Linked DNA regions of Homo sapiens. The protein of the gene in region 2 interacts with the protein of the main gene of each other region in a pairwise test. Each region holds a gene or a part of one and is shown on either strand. Other genes may lie near its edges. The genes, in order: USE1, CCM2L and CAMK2B.

Evidence for each region.
Region 1: the proteins of CCM2L (region 2) and USE1 interact in binary tests that used the Homo sapiens proteins (3 or more experiments, as listed by UniProt).
Region 3: the proteins of CCM2L (region 2) and CAMK2B interact in binary tests that used the Homo sapiens proteins (3 or more experiments, as listed by UniProt).

Annotation. Positions count from the first base shown.
Region 1 is NC_000019.10:17,213,338-17,217,081, reverse strand, and holds the start of USE1 (vesicle transport protein USE1), read right to left. Parts: upstream 1,726-3,744; 5' UTR 1,677-1,725; coding exon 1,575-1,676; intron 1,281-1,574; coding exon 1,231-1,280; intron 1,091-1,230; coding exon 1,012-1,090; intron 914-1,011; coding exon 761-913; intron 1-760.
Region 2 is NC_000020.11:32,027,402-32,031,145, forward strand, and holds part of CCM2L (cerebral cavernous malformations 2 protein-like), read left to right. Parts: intron 1-1,593; coding exon 1,594-1,723; intron 1,724-2,298; coding exon 2,299-2,437; intron 2,438-3,521; coding exon of another isoform or gene 3,522-3,599; coding exon 3,600-3,744.
Region 3 is NC_000007.14:44,323,599-44,327,342, forward strand, and holds the start of CAMK2B (calcium/calmodulin-dependent protein kinase type II subunit beta), read right to left. Parts: upstream 1,997-3,744; 5' UTR 1,824-1,996; coding exon 1,759-1,823; intron 1-1,758. UniProt on the Homo sapiens protein: Calcium/calmodulin-dependent protein kinase that functions autonomously after Ca(2+)/calmodulin-binding and autophosphorylation, and is involved in dendritic spine and synapse formation, neuronal plasticity and regulation of sarcoplasmic reticulum Ca(2+) transport in skeletal muscle.

The DNA.
Region 1 (3,744 bases), on a different chromosome or scaffold from region 2:
CTCAACCTCCTCACCTTCAGTCAGGACATGGGGAAATCCCATGACCTCTGAGCCTGTTTCCTCAACCTTAAACTGGTAACGACAACTCATATTTTTTTTTTTTGAGACGGAGTTTCACTCTTATTGCCCAGGCTGGAGTGCAATGGCTTGATCTCAGCTCACCGCAACCTCTGCCTCCTGGGTTCAAGCGATTCTCCTGCCTCAGCCTCCCGAGTAGCTGGGATTACAGGCGTGAGCCACCATGCCCAGCTAATTTTGTATTTTTACTAAAGACGGGGTTTCTCCATGTTGGTCAGGCTGGTCTTAACTCCTGACCTCAAATGATCCGCCCGCCTCGGCCTCCCAAAGTGCTGGGATTACAGGCGTGAGCTGCCGCACCTGGCCACAACAACTCATATTTTAAAAGATTGAGCTGATCCACATAAAGTGCTCAGAAAGGAACTTGTCATCCTCTTTTACGGCTGAAGAAACTTATGTGTCTTGTAAGTTGCAAGCCAGGACTCAAACCCTGCTCTTGGGCCAACTCTGGGGCTTAACCAGACACATTCCATTTTTGCCTTGTACCAAATTCCTATTCATCTAGCAAAGCCTTAGCCACAATGCCCCTCTGTTGGGCAGCCTTGTGTGATGACCCAGGGAAGAGATTGCTGGACCCCCTTAGGGTTCCTGTATCTGACAGTATTGTGGTTCTGGCTGCCTACAAGCATAGAACCCCTATTCCTGTCCAAGGGATTCCCAGGGACCAGGGAAGGAGCCCTACCGTGCCTAGTAGCTCACTCCGCATCTCGCTGGTGTACCGCGCCCGTGACTGCAGATGCACCGTCTTTGTGGCGGGCACTCGCTCTCTGGCTGTGGTTGGCACACGGCCAGGGGCCAGGAACTGGTTGGCCAGTGCTTTCTCTGAGGAGGAGGTCTGCAGAAATGTGGGAAGATAAGTCACTGGAGGGGCAGGTCCTGGGGACCAAAGTGAGCGGTGATGGGGGCTGAGGGGGCAGGGGCACCCCTTCTCACCAGCTTCTCGGCTTGCAGCATCCCCTTCAGAAAATCCACCTTCCAGGAATATTCATTGATCACCTCAGAGGCCGGTTTGCTGGAAGGCAGGAAGAAGAAAAACAAAACCTGTCCATGGTCCCCAGCTCAGGGAAGGGTCCCAGCTGGGATAGCGGTACTGGGATGTCCAGTAGCACAGCCACGTGCTGATGTGAAAGCCCTGAGGCTGCCTGCACTCACCTCGCGTGGACCTTCAGGGCCTGCAACATGTCCTCTAGGGCTCCCACGTACTGGGGAGGAAAAGTGGATTGTCACCCGGGGGTCTTTCCCATGTCCTGATCATGGGAGTCGGGGGGGCGGGGCCGACAAATGGGAGGGGTCAAGCGTAAAGGAGGCGGGGCCAGTGGGGGAGGGGCGGAGTCCCAGGGACGGGGGCGGAAGCTACAGGTGGACGTGGCGGGACTGACCGGAAAGGGCGCTGCCCGAGAGGCTACTGGGGCCGGGGAGTCGGGCCAGGTGGCTTCCAACCCTAGGAATCACCCCCCGGGAGTCGGGCTCTACGCGGCAGTGCGAGATCCCCTCACCTTCTCCAGGCGCCACTCGTCCGGGTCCCGTTTCTCCGCTGCCATCGCCTCGCAGCGGGATAGCAGCCGCACCAGGTTTAGCTCCAGCCTCGACGCCGCCATTATCGCCCGGCCCTACACCACCCCTTCCGCCGGCTCCATGTTAAGAGAGGGCGGAAGTGCCTTCAAGTGGCCTTCCGGGCGGATGTTTCCCCCGCGCTCGTTAGCTGGCCCATCTTTGTTTGGAGCGGAAGTAATATCTTGTTTTGAGACGGGGCGCTGGGCCGGGCGCGGTGGCTCAGGGCTGTAATGCCAGCATTTTAGGAGGCAGAGGTGGGAAAGGATTGCTTGAGGCCAGCCCGGGCAAGATAGCGCTACTCTATCTCTATTTTAAAAAAATAGGAGAGGCGCCACCCCATTCTTACTTAGGCGAATCACTTGCTTTTCCTCGAGAGCATGTTAACCCTTCGGGAATGATAGGACGACCGGGGTCTTCTGGTGTCAGACCCGCGTGCAGTGTGCCCTTTTGTTCTGTTTTGCCTGCTCAAAGTACCTCCCCGCACCCCACTCCTACCTGGATTCTTCCCAGTCGGAGCTATTTCACGTCCACACACCCTTCCCGATTTCTGTAGCCTGGGATTCAGGAATCCAAGGCTTCCCCCACCTCAGCAGGGCTCATCTGTATTGTGGTTATGGGTTTCCAGGTCACAGCTCCAGCTCTGATTCCATCCTCGGCCCTGGGAGAGTTTAACTTTTCTGGATCCGCTTCTTCCCCCGGGAAATGGACAGTGTGACAGTACCTGCCTCAAGGGGCACATGAGACAGCTCTGCCTGAGAGTGAGCAAGGTGGGGCTGGGTCCCCCCTAACGCCCAGACCCCCATGGAGAACCCCTTCCCAGCCCACCTCAGTACCTGGAAGCTGAGTACCCCTATGCCTTGCAGTGCCTCTCTTCTGGAGTGACAGGATGAGGGTGGGGGCTTCACAGGAACCAGGGCCTGGCATGCAGCCTTCATGTTTTCCCACACCTTAGGTCATCTGCACCTTGGTTACACCAGTGGGCCTGATGTCCTTGAAAAATATCATAGACGGGTAGGTGCGGTGGCTCACACCTGTAATCCCAGCACTTAGGGAGGCTGAGGCAGATGGATCACCTGAGGTCAGGAGTTTGAGACCAGCCTGGCCAACATGGTGAAACCCCGTCTCTACTAAAAATACAAAAATTAGCCGGGCGTGATGGTGGGTGCCTGTAATCCCAGCTACTTGGGAGACTGAGGCAGGAGAATCGCTTGAACCCAGGAGGTGGATGTTGCAGTGAGCCGAGATTGTGCCACTGCACTCCAGCTTGGGCAACAAAGCAAGACTCCGTCTCAAAAAAAAAAAAAAAAAAAGAAAATACCATGGAGGGCCAGGTGCGGTGGCTCACGCCTGTAATCCCAGCACTTTGGGAGGGTGAGGTGGATGGATCACTGGAGGTCAGGAGTTTGGAGAGCAGCCTGGCCAACATGGTGAAACCCTGTCTCTATCAAAAAACACAAAAATTAGCTGGGCTTGGTTGTGCGTGCCTGTAATCCCAGCTACTCGGGAGGCTGAGGCAGGAGAATCGCTTGAACCCGAGAGGTGGAGGCTGCAGTGGGCCGAGATCGCGCCACTGCACTCCAGCCTGGGTGACAGAGCGAGACCGTGTTTCAAGAAAAAAACCCACAACAAACAATGGAGACCAAACCCAGGGCCCATCAAAGGGGCCTCTAGAGGCTGGCAGGGCAGAGTCTAAATCCCAGCCATGCCCCTCCCAACTGTGTGGCCTTGGAGAAGCCCCTCAACCTCTGGCATGTGCTGTCTGAACTTGGGTTCTTCACGGTGCCCCAACCAATACCAGCCAGCCAGTTCCCACGACTCCCATCCGATGGCAGCCTGGGAGCCCATCTGTTCCTGTCCTGCTGGGCCCACCAGGAACTGGCCACCTCTGCTGGATGGGTGGCTGCTGCAGCTGACATTTAGGCTCCAGAGGCTGGGCACTGAATCAGGGAGGCCAGAGAGGGCTGCCAGGACAGCAGGCGCTCCTGGCCAAGTGAGGCTCTGCTGGGAGCTCCCTGTTTGGTGGAGGATCAAGACAGAACTTTGAGGACAGTGTTCCACCCATATTCTGCACCCTTCTTGGCTGAGGCCACAGGGCAGACCCCCACCCACCGG
Region 2 (3,744 bases):
AGTGCTGTTCTATAAAGCACTTTATTTTTTCATCAACATAGTAACATTACAGCAGCTACTGTTTATTGCTTATAGCCCATAATTCTAAGTGTTCTACAAATATTAACTCCTCTAATTCTCATGATGACACTAATTATTATTATCCCATTATACAGATGGAAAAATTGAGAAATAGAGAAATTAAGTTTAGTTTTCCCAAGGTCAAGCACCTAGTAAGTTGTAAGTATGGGATTTGAACAGAAGAAGGCTGGCTCCAGAATCCAGTCCTTTAACCACAAAGCTACACGGCTTCTTTGTAGGTAATAATGGAGGATGGTTCTGGAACAATTTAGAGACAAGGAGGCAGGAGCCTAAGGTTGAGTTTTTATTAAGCAATATTTCTTGAGTACCTCCTATGTGCCAGGCACTCTGCTGTGTGCTGGGGATACAGATGGACACAAGACAGAGGGCAAAACCTGGGCCTGGCACATAGTAGGTGTTCAACAAATGAAGAAAACCAAAGTCCCTGCTCTTGTCAAGTTTACAGTCTAGGATAGGAGGCAATGAAATCGCAATTTAACAGTAACAATCATTAATGGTAATAAGTACTAAAGGGAGGCTCAGGGTGCTATAAGAGAGGCAGAGGGGGACCGCAACTCAGCTGGAGAGTCAGGAGGGCCTCTCAGAGGTGATGGCACATGAACTGAGGCTTGGAGGATGAAAGGGGGAAGAGTGTTCCAGGTAGAGGGAACAGCAAATGTAAGAATCCTGAACTAACCAGGCGTGGTGGCTCACGCCTGTAATCCCAGCATTTTGGGAGGCTGAGGTGGGCAGATTGCTTGAGGTGAGGCATTTGAGAGCAGCCTGGACAAACATGGTGAAACCCTGTCTCTACTAAAAATACAAAAATTGGCTGGGTGGCACATGCTTGTAGTCCCAGCTACTCAGGAGGCTGAGGCATGAAAATTGCTTGAACCCGGGAGGCGGAGGCTGCAGTGAGCCAAGACCGCACCACTGCACTCCAGCCTCAGTGACAGAGCAAGAATCTGTCTCAAAAAAAAAAAAAAAAAATTTTGAACAGGATAGAGCTTAGTGGGTTTGAGGGGCAGCAGGTGGCCACTGTGGCTGTGGCAAATGGTGTGAGGGAGAGAGTGGTCAGAGAGGATGCTTGGGGGTACCTGGAAAGGCCATGCATGTCACAGGTAGGCCATGGACTGAGGGAGCATGTTCGACAGAGGTTCTAACCCAACCTAGGGGAATTAGGGAACACTCTCCTGAGGAGATGACATTTAAGATCACGGGATGAGTAAGAGTTAGCTGTGCAAAAGGGAGGGGAAAGGAGGCAATCCAGGCAGAGGGACCAGCAGGTGCAAACACCCAGAGGTGAGGAGATAGTAGAGGAAGAAGGAGAAGGGGGGTGGGGGGCGCGAAGCACAAAGAGCAAAGGCAAAGGCAAGCACAGTGACAGATGAGACTTGAGAGGTGCCAGGGGCCAGGGTATGCGAGGCCTTGGAGGCCAGCATGCAGTCTAGGATGAGGCCTCCTACCTTCAGCCTGCCTGAGGGCCAGGAGCTGGAGGGAGGCGAGTGAAGGCCCTTCTTCCCGTGCCTGCAGTAATGGCTCCCAGGACACCTTTGAAGCATGTTACAGCGGCACGTCCACACCTTCTTTCCATGGCTCCCACTGCAGCGGCAGCGACCACAGCAGTCTGGGCTTGGAGCAGTTACAGGATTACATGGTCACGGTGAGCTGGGGCCGGTGGTGGGAATGGCACAAGCAAAAGCCTGGAGGCTGGAGTAAACATTTTGGGAATGGCACATTGCCCTGGACATAACCTAAGCAGAAGACATCAGAGGTCAGAGCAGGAAATGAGGTTAGGAGAGTAAACTGAGGCCAGCTTGTGAAAGGCCTTAACTAATGTCAGCTGGCATTAATTGAGTGCCTGCTGTATACCAGGCACCATTCTAAGCACCTTTCATGCATTATTTCTTTTAATCTTTTCAACAACCCCAAGAAGAAAATACCATCATTATCCTCACTTTGCAGATGAGAAAAGCAAGCATCATGGAGGTTGTCACCTACCCAAGATCACAGAGCTGATCCAGTGAAGGGGTCAAGATTTGCACTCAGGCAGCTTGAGTCCACATCCTATTCTTAAATGCAGCCTAAGGGATCTAGATGTCCTCTGAATAGCCCATGGGAAGGTTTTCAGAGGAGAGCTGGACCAAACATGCCCTTAGGGAAGGCTCTGGGCCTTTCAGGCAGGGGTTGGGTGGCGCTGCTTCCTGGGATTGATCTCGAATGGTGTCCCCCACATAGTTGCGGAGTAAGCTGGGGCCCCTCGAGATCCAGCAGTTTGCGATGCTGCTGCGGGAGTACCGGCTGGGGCTGCCCATCCAGGACTATTGCACAGGCCTGCTGAAGCTCTACGGAGACCGGCGCAAGTTCCTCCTCCTTGGTGAGCCCCCGCTGTACCCCCAGAGGTCAGCTAGGGCCCCTGCTTGGTCCATGCCATCCCAGTCAGGCACCAGGCTGCAAATGTTTTCTCCTTATCTTTCAGCCTCTGATGAAACCCAGATCATGAGATTCACAGGGCAGATGAGGAGCCCAAAGTGCAGAGTAGGGAAAGGACTTGTCAGAGCTGGGAGACACTGTTGATAAGAAGAACTAAGCAGTGGTGTGGCCATTTCATCCTCACAGCAAAGCTGCGAGAGGGACTGATTCTTCCCATCTTACCCCACACGGAAGCTGAGGCTCAGAAAGGCTAAGGAACATGTCCAAGGTCACACAGCTAGTAAGGAGGGCTAATAATAACAGGAGGAATAATACGAATAAGCTGACATGTGCTTGGCAGTTACCCTGTGCCAAGCATCATCTCATTAAATGCCCCCAGTTCTGAGAAGTAGATACTATTAATGGTCCCCATTTTGCAGGTGAGGAAACTGAGACTCAGAGTTACAAAGTAAAGGACTGAGGTCACATAGCTAGTAAGTAGGAATGGAAATAAAACAAACTGTTTACAGAGTGCTCAGTATGTGCTGAGTACCTTGTTATTTAATCCTCACATCCCTACCCAGAGAACAGGTGCAATTATCTGTTTTACAGGTGAGGAAAATGAGGTTCAACATAATTAATCAATGGGAATATAATGATGGTACTAATAATAACAAAAATAGGCCTGGCGAGGTGGCTCACACCTGTAATCCCAGCACTTTGGGAGGCTGAAGCTGGCGGATCACCTGAGGTCAGGAGTTCAAGACCAGCCTGGCCAACATGAAACCCTGTCTCTACTAAAAATACAAAAATTAGCAGGGCGTGGTGGTGTGCGCCTGTAATCCCAGCTACTTGGGAGGCTGAGGCATGAGAATCTCTTGAACCCGGGAGGCAGAGGCTATAATAATAATAATAAAAGTACAGTAATCTAGTATGTAGTGAGCATTCACTGTGTGCTGAGCGCTGTGTCGTTATTCGCTGGCTCAGACAGTTAAGGACCTTGGGCAAGGCCACACAGCCAGTGAGTGACAGCAGGGATTTGCACCCAGATCTGCAGAGAGGACGCTTCCCCTGTGGAAGGGAAAGGGAACGTGTCCTGGGGACTCACCATGCCCCTCGGCTCGCAGGGATGCGGCCCTTCATCCCGGACCAGGACATCGGCTACTTCGAGGGCTTCCTGGAGGGCGTGGGCATCCGCGAGGGCGGCATCCTCACTGACAGCTTCGGCCGCATCAAGCGCAGCATGAGCTCCACGTCGGCCTCCGCAGTGCG
Region 3 (3,744 bases), on a different chromosome or scaffold from region 2:
ACAGCCAGAGTGAGCTGCAGTCTGAGGACACTGGGTGCACATGGGGAGGTCTTGAAAGTGGCTTCTTTGGAGAAGACCAGGGACACCTGCTGTGAGGGCCTCTGTGCTTCTGAGCGCAAGCAGAAAAGACAACAAGAAGGCTCCTGAGGAAAGACTGACTTCCCACTGTTGCTCTCTTCCTCAGAGAACCAGGCACATTAACTGCCACCCACCTGCCCCTCCAGTGGCCAGGACACCTCTGGAGGCCAAGAGGACAGACGGGGGTAGATCGGTGCATCTGAGGGGTGAAGACCGGGGAGCCAGCCACCCACTCAGGGATCCGCATGAAGGGGGCTGGGCTCGCCCTCTCCCTCGAGGTCTCAGCCCTGTGGTGCTCTCCAGATCCACCCAAGGAAGGGTCCCCCAGCCAGCCTGGCCCCCCACCCCACCCATCCAGCATGGGCTTCTTGCAGGGCTGGGCTCCACATCCCTAACCCCTACCAGAATTCTCTCCACACGTGCAGGGAGAAGTGGGGAATGAACACACCCCCACACTCCTCCAGCTCCGCACTCCACAATTATCAATGATCAGCGTCCCTCACCCACCACAAGGTTTCACCAGACACTTATTTAGTAAAGGAAAAAAAGGATCTGTTGCTGGATGTGTAAGAGGAAATCTCGCCAGCACCGCCAGCGCCCCCACCGCCTGCACTGAAGGGACGGAGGAGGATGGGGGAGGACGCAGGAGGATGGGGCTCTGGCCCAGTCAGGCTGGAGATTCAGGAGTTCTGAAGCTAGCCCTAGGGATGCCAGGTGCAGCCACCTTGATTCTCAGAACGGGAGACCCCAGGCCAGACAGGAGGCCCCTGAGGCGCTCCCCATCTCACCCCAGGGGCAAAGCCGGGTCCGGGGACCACGAACCAGACCTTCGCCCTACACTGCTCATACTGCCAAGGAGAGAACGGGAGCCACAGCACCTGTTCCCCGTGAGGTCCCACTTCAAACAAACCTTCAAAGCCCCTTCCCCTTTAGGGCGCCCCCGCCAACAGTCCAAAATCCAGCCCCCATCCACCTCGATGACCCTGAAATTTGCAATCCAGTCAGGCTCTTAGTCTCTCCCCGCTATCCCCATGACCTGATCCAGGCTCCCTGACCTCGTCCTCCCCACACCTCCAAATTCCTGTTTCCAGAAGAATCTGGGGGAAAATCCTCCAGAACCCAGATTCCCCAGGGGACCTACAGCAGAGGCTCTCCCACGCCGGCACCCCCAGCGCGGATGGGGCCACGCGCAGGAGCAGGCGCAAGCAGGTCCCGCCACCCCCGCCGCCTGCCGCTCGGGTGGGGGTGGGGACAGCGCACCCGCGTCGGGGACGACCCTCTGGGGCCGCAGCCGACCCCTCCCGGCGCTCCAGGCCCGGGGGCCACCCCCGCGCGCCCCTCCTCTCTGACCTCCCCGCCGCCAAATGCGTCACGTCTGCCGGGCGCTCCGGGGACACCTGCTGCCGCCCCCGCCGCGCCAAGTCGCGAGCCCGGAGCCCCGGCCCGGCAGCCGCGCTGGGCAGAGCTGGGCAGGGCCGCGCGCGCTGAGGTCAGGCAGCCAGGCCCGGGGCCGGGGGCTCGCGGGTCGGGGCCGCGCGGGGCCGTGCGCTTGGGCCCGGAGCCCAGAGAAGCCGGCGGCGCGCGGGCCCGCAGTGCGCCTGGAGCCGGCGGCGCGGAGGGTCCCGGAGGTCCCGGCCCTCTGGGGTCCCCGGCCCAGCCCGCGCGCGCCGCTGCTCTTACTTGCCAATATCCTCGTAGAGCTGGTACTCGTCGGTGAAGCGGGTGCAGGTCACCGTGGTGGCCATGGCGGCGGCGGACGGGCTCGGCGTGCGCTCGGCTGCGCTCGGGCGGCGGCGACTCCGGCTCCCGCTCGCGGGCACGGCGGCGACACGGGCGCGGGCGCGGGAGACACCTCGGCTCGCGGCGCCAGGCGGGGGCCGGGCTGGGCTGCGCCGGGCGGCGAGCGCACGCGAGATCTGCTCGCTCCGTCCTCGCCAGGAGCGCGCCGCACACCTACGCGCGGGGAGGCGCGGGCGCCGCTGTCACCGCCGCCGCCGCCGCGCCCGCCCCGCCCGCCGCCCCCTGCACGCGCCTTCCCCGCGCCCTGCACACGCTGCTCCTGCACCCGCACCCGCAGGGCACCGGCGCCCTGCATCTGCACACGCGCCCTGCACACACACCCTTGCCCCGCACCCGCAACGCACCTGCACCTGCACCTGCACTCACACGCGCGCCCGCCCCCGCCCGCCCCCGCACCCCACACACACACCCGCGCCCTGTACTGACGCCTTCATCCTCTACCCGCACCACGCCCGCACCTCGCGCACGCAGGCCACTTGCTGCTGCCGACCCCTCGCTCTCACATAACACAGAAGAGTGCACATAATGAACGCAGCCTCCTCTCTCTCTCTCGAAGGCCCACCTAGCCTGACAGCAGGAGGGGACTGGGGCCCACATGGAGGTAGAGGGCTCATGTGCTGCCCTCCACAGGACTCATTCCTCACACCCTCAGGAAGAGATGCTGCCAGATCCCTTCTGCCCAGTCTCCATCAGCCACACATGCCCCAAAGGCTGCCTGGCCAGGAGGAACCGCCCAGAAGGCAGTGTACACACTGGGTCACTAGCATGAGAAAGTGAAAGGGTGGGGCCTGCCCCCTCCCCTTGGCCCCAGCCCCTCCCTTCCCCCTCACTTCTCCAAAGACTGGTTGCTGGGTTGTCTGGAATGGAGGTCCCAGGAGGCAACATTCGGAGTCCAGACCAACGGACCCTGAGCCAGGGGAACAGGGGCTGCTCCACCAGCAATTTGGGGGGCCTGAGAGCTCACAGCCACCCTGATCAGGTAAAGGTGCACATTCTCTCCTTTTCCAGCACGGTCCACCTGCCTGCCCCCTGCTTTTGCCTGGAGGAGGAGGGCCCACACACCCCAACCCCCTCCTGAAAGCAGCCAAGGAGGAGGAGAGTGCAGGGAGGCAGGCAGGAGGCAGGGCGACCCGGTTTCCCACAAAACAGCCTTCCCTGAGGCCTGGCACCAGGGCTGCTGTCCAGAACCGGGACTTTAGACCACTGGGCTCCAGCATCCCCACACTCTTCTCTGACGGGGTCCATCCTGGGCAGGCTCTGAGGAGGGGGTTTCCAGCAGCCAGCTCTGGATTTGGGTCACGCTGCTGCCCTGATATGACTTCCTTACTGCTCCCCAAGGACCAATTCTGGGCCTATCCTGCTCATCCCTCTCACCTCGTGGCCAGCCCAGGGCAAGCCCCAGAAGCCACAATAAATGTCATGTGGATAAGGGAGGGGATAAAGGCATTCTGAGTGCTGGCAGCCAGGGCCCTTCTGGGCCAGGATGCATTTGGCATGGGACTGCTGGGCAATTAGTAGACCACACGGCAACAAGTCCCTGCCATCGACCCACCTGCACCCAGAAGACACTAGAGGACGAGAAATTCTCAGGCCAAAGGCAAATGCTGGGCCACCTGGGGAAGTCCCCAGCTGAGGAAGCAGAGGGATCCTGGCCTTGACTTCAGCAGGACCATAGCAGGAAGGGAGACCCCGTCTATGTCAGACTTGGACTCAGAGAATCCTGGGCCATCCTAACAGACAGACTGGCATGGGCTCGAGAAAGGACTGGAGGCCAAGTCTGAGGTTTGTTCTTGGCGTTGTGTTTAACCCCACAGGAGTTTCTTCCAGCACCTGCTGGATGCATCCATATTTTCCCTTTCTGAGCTC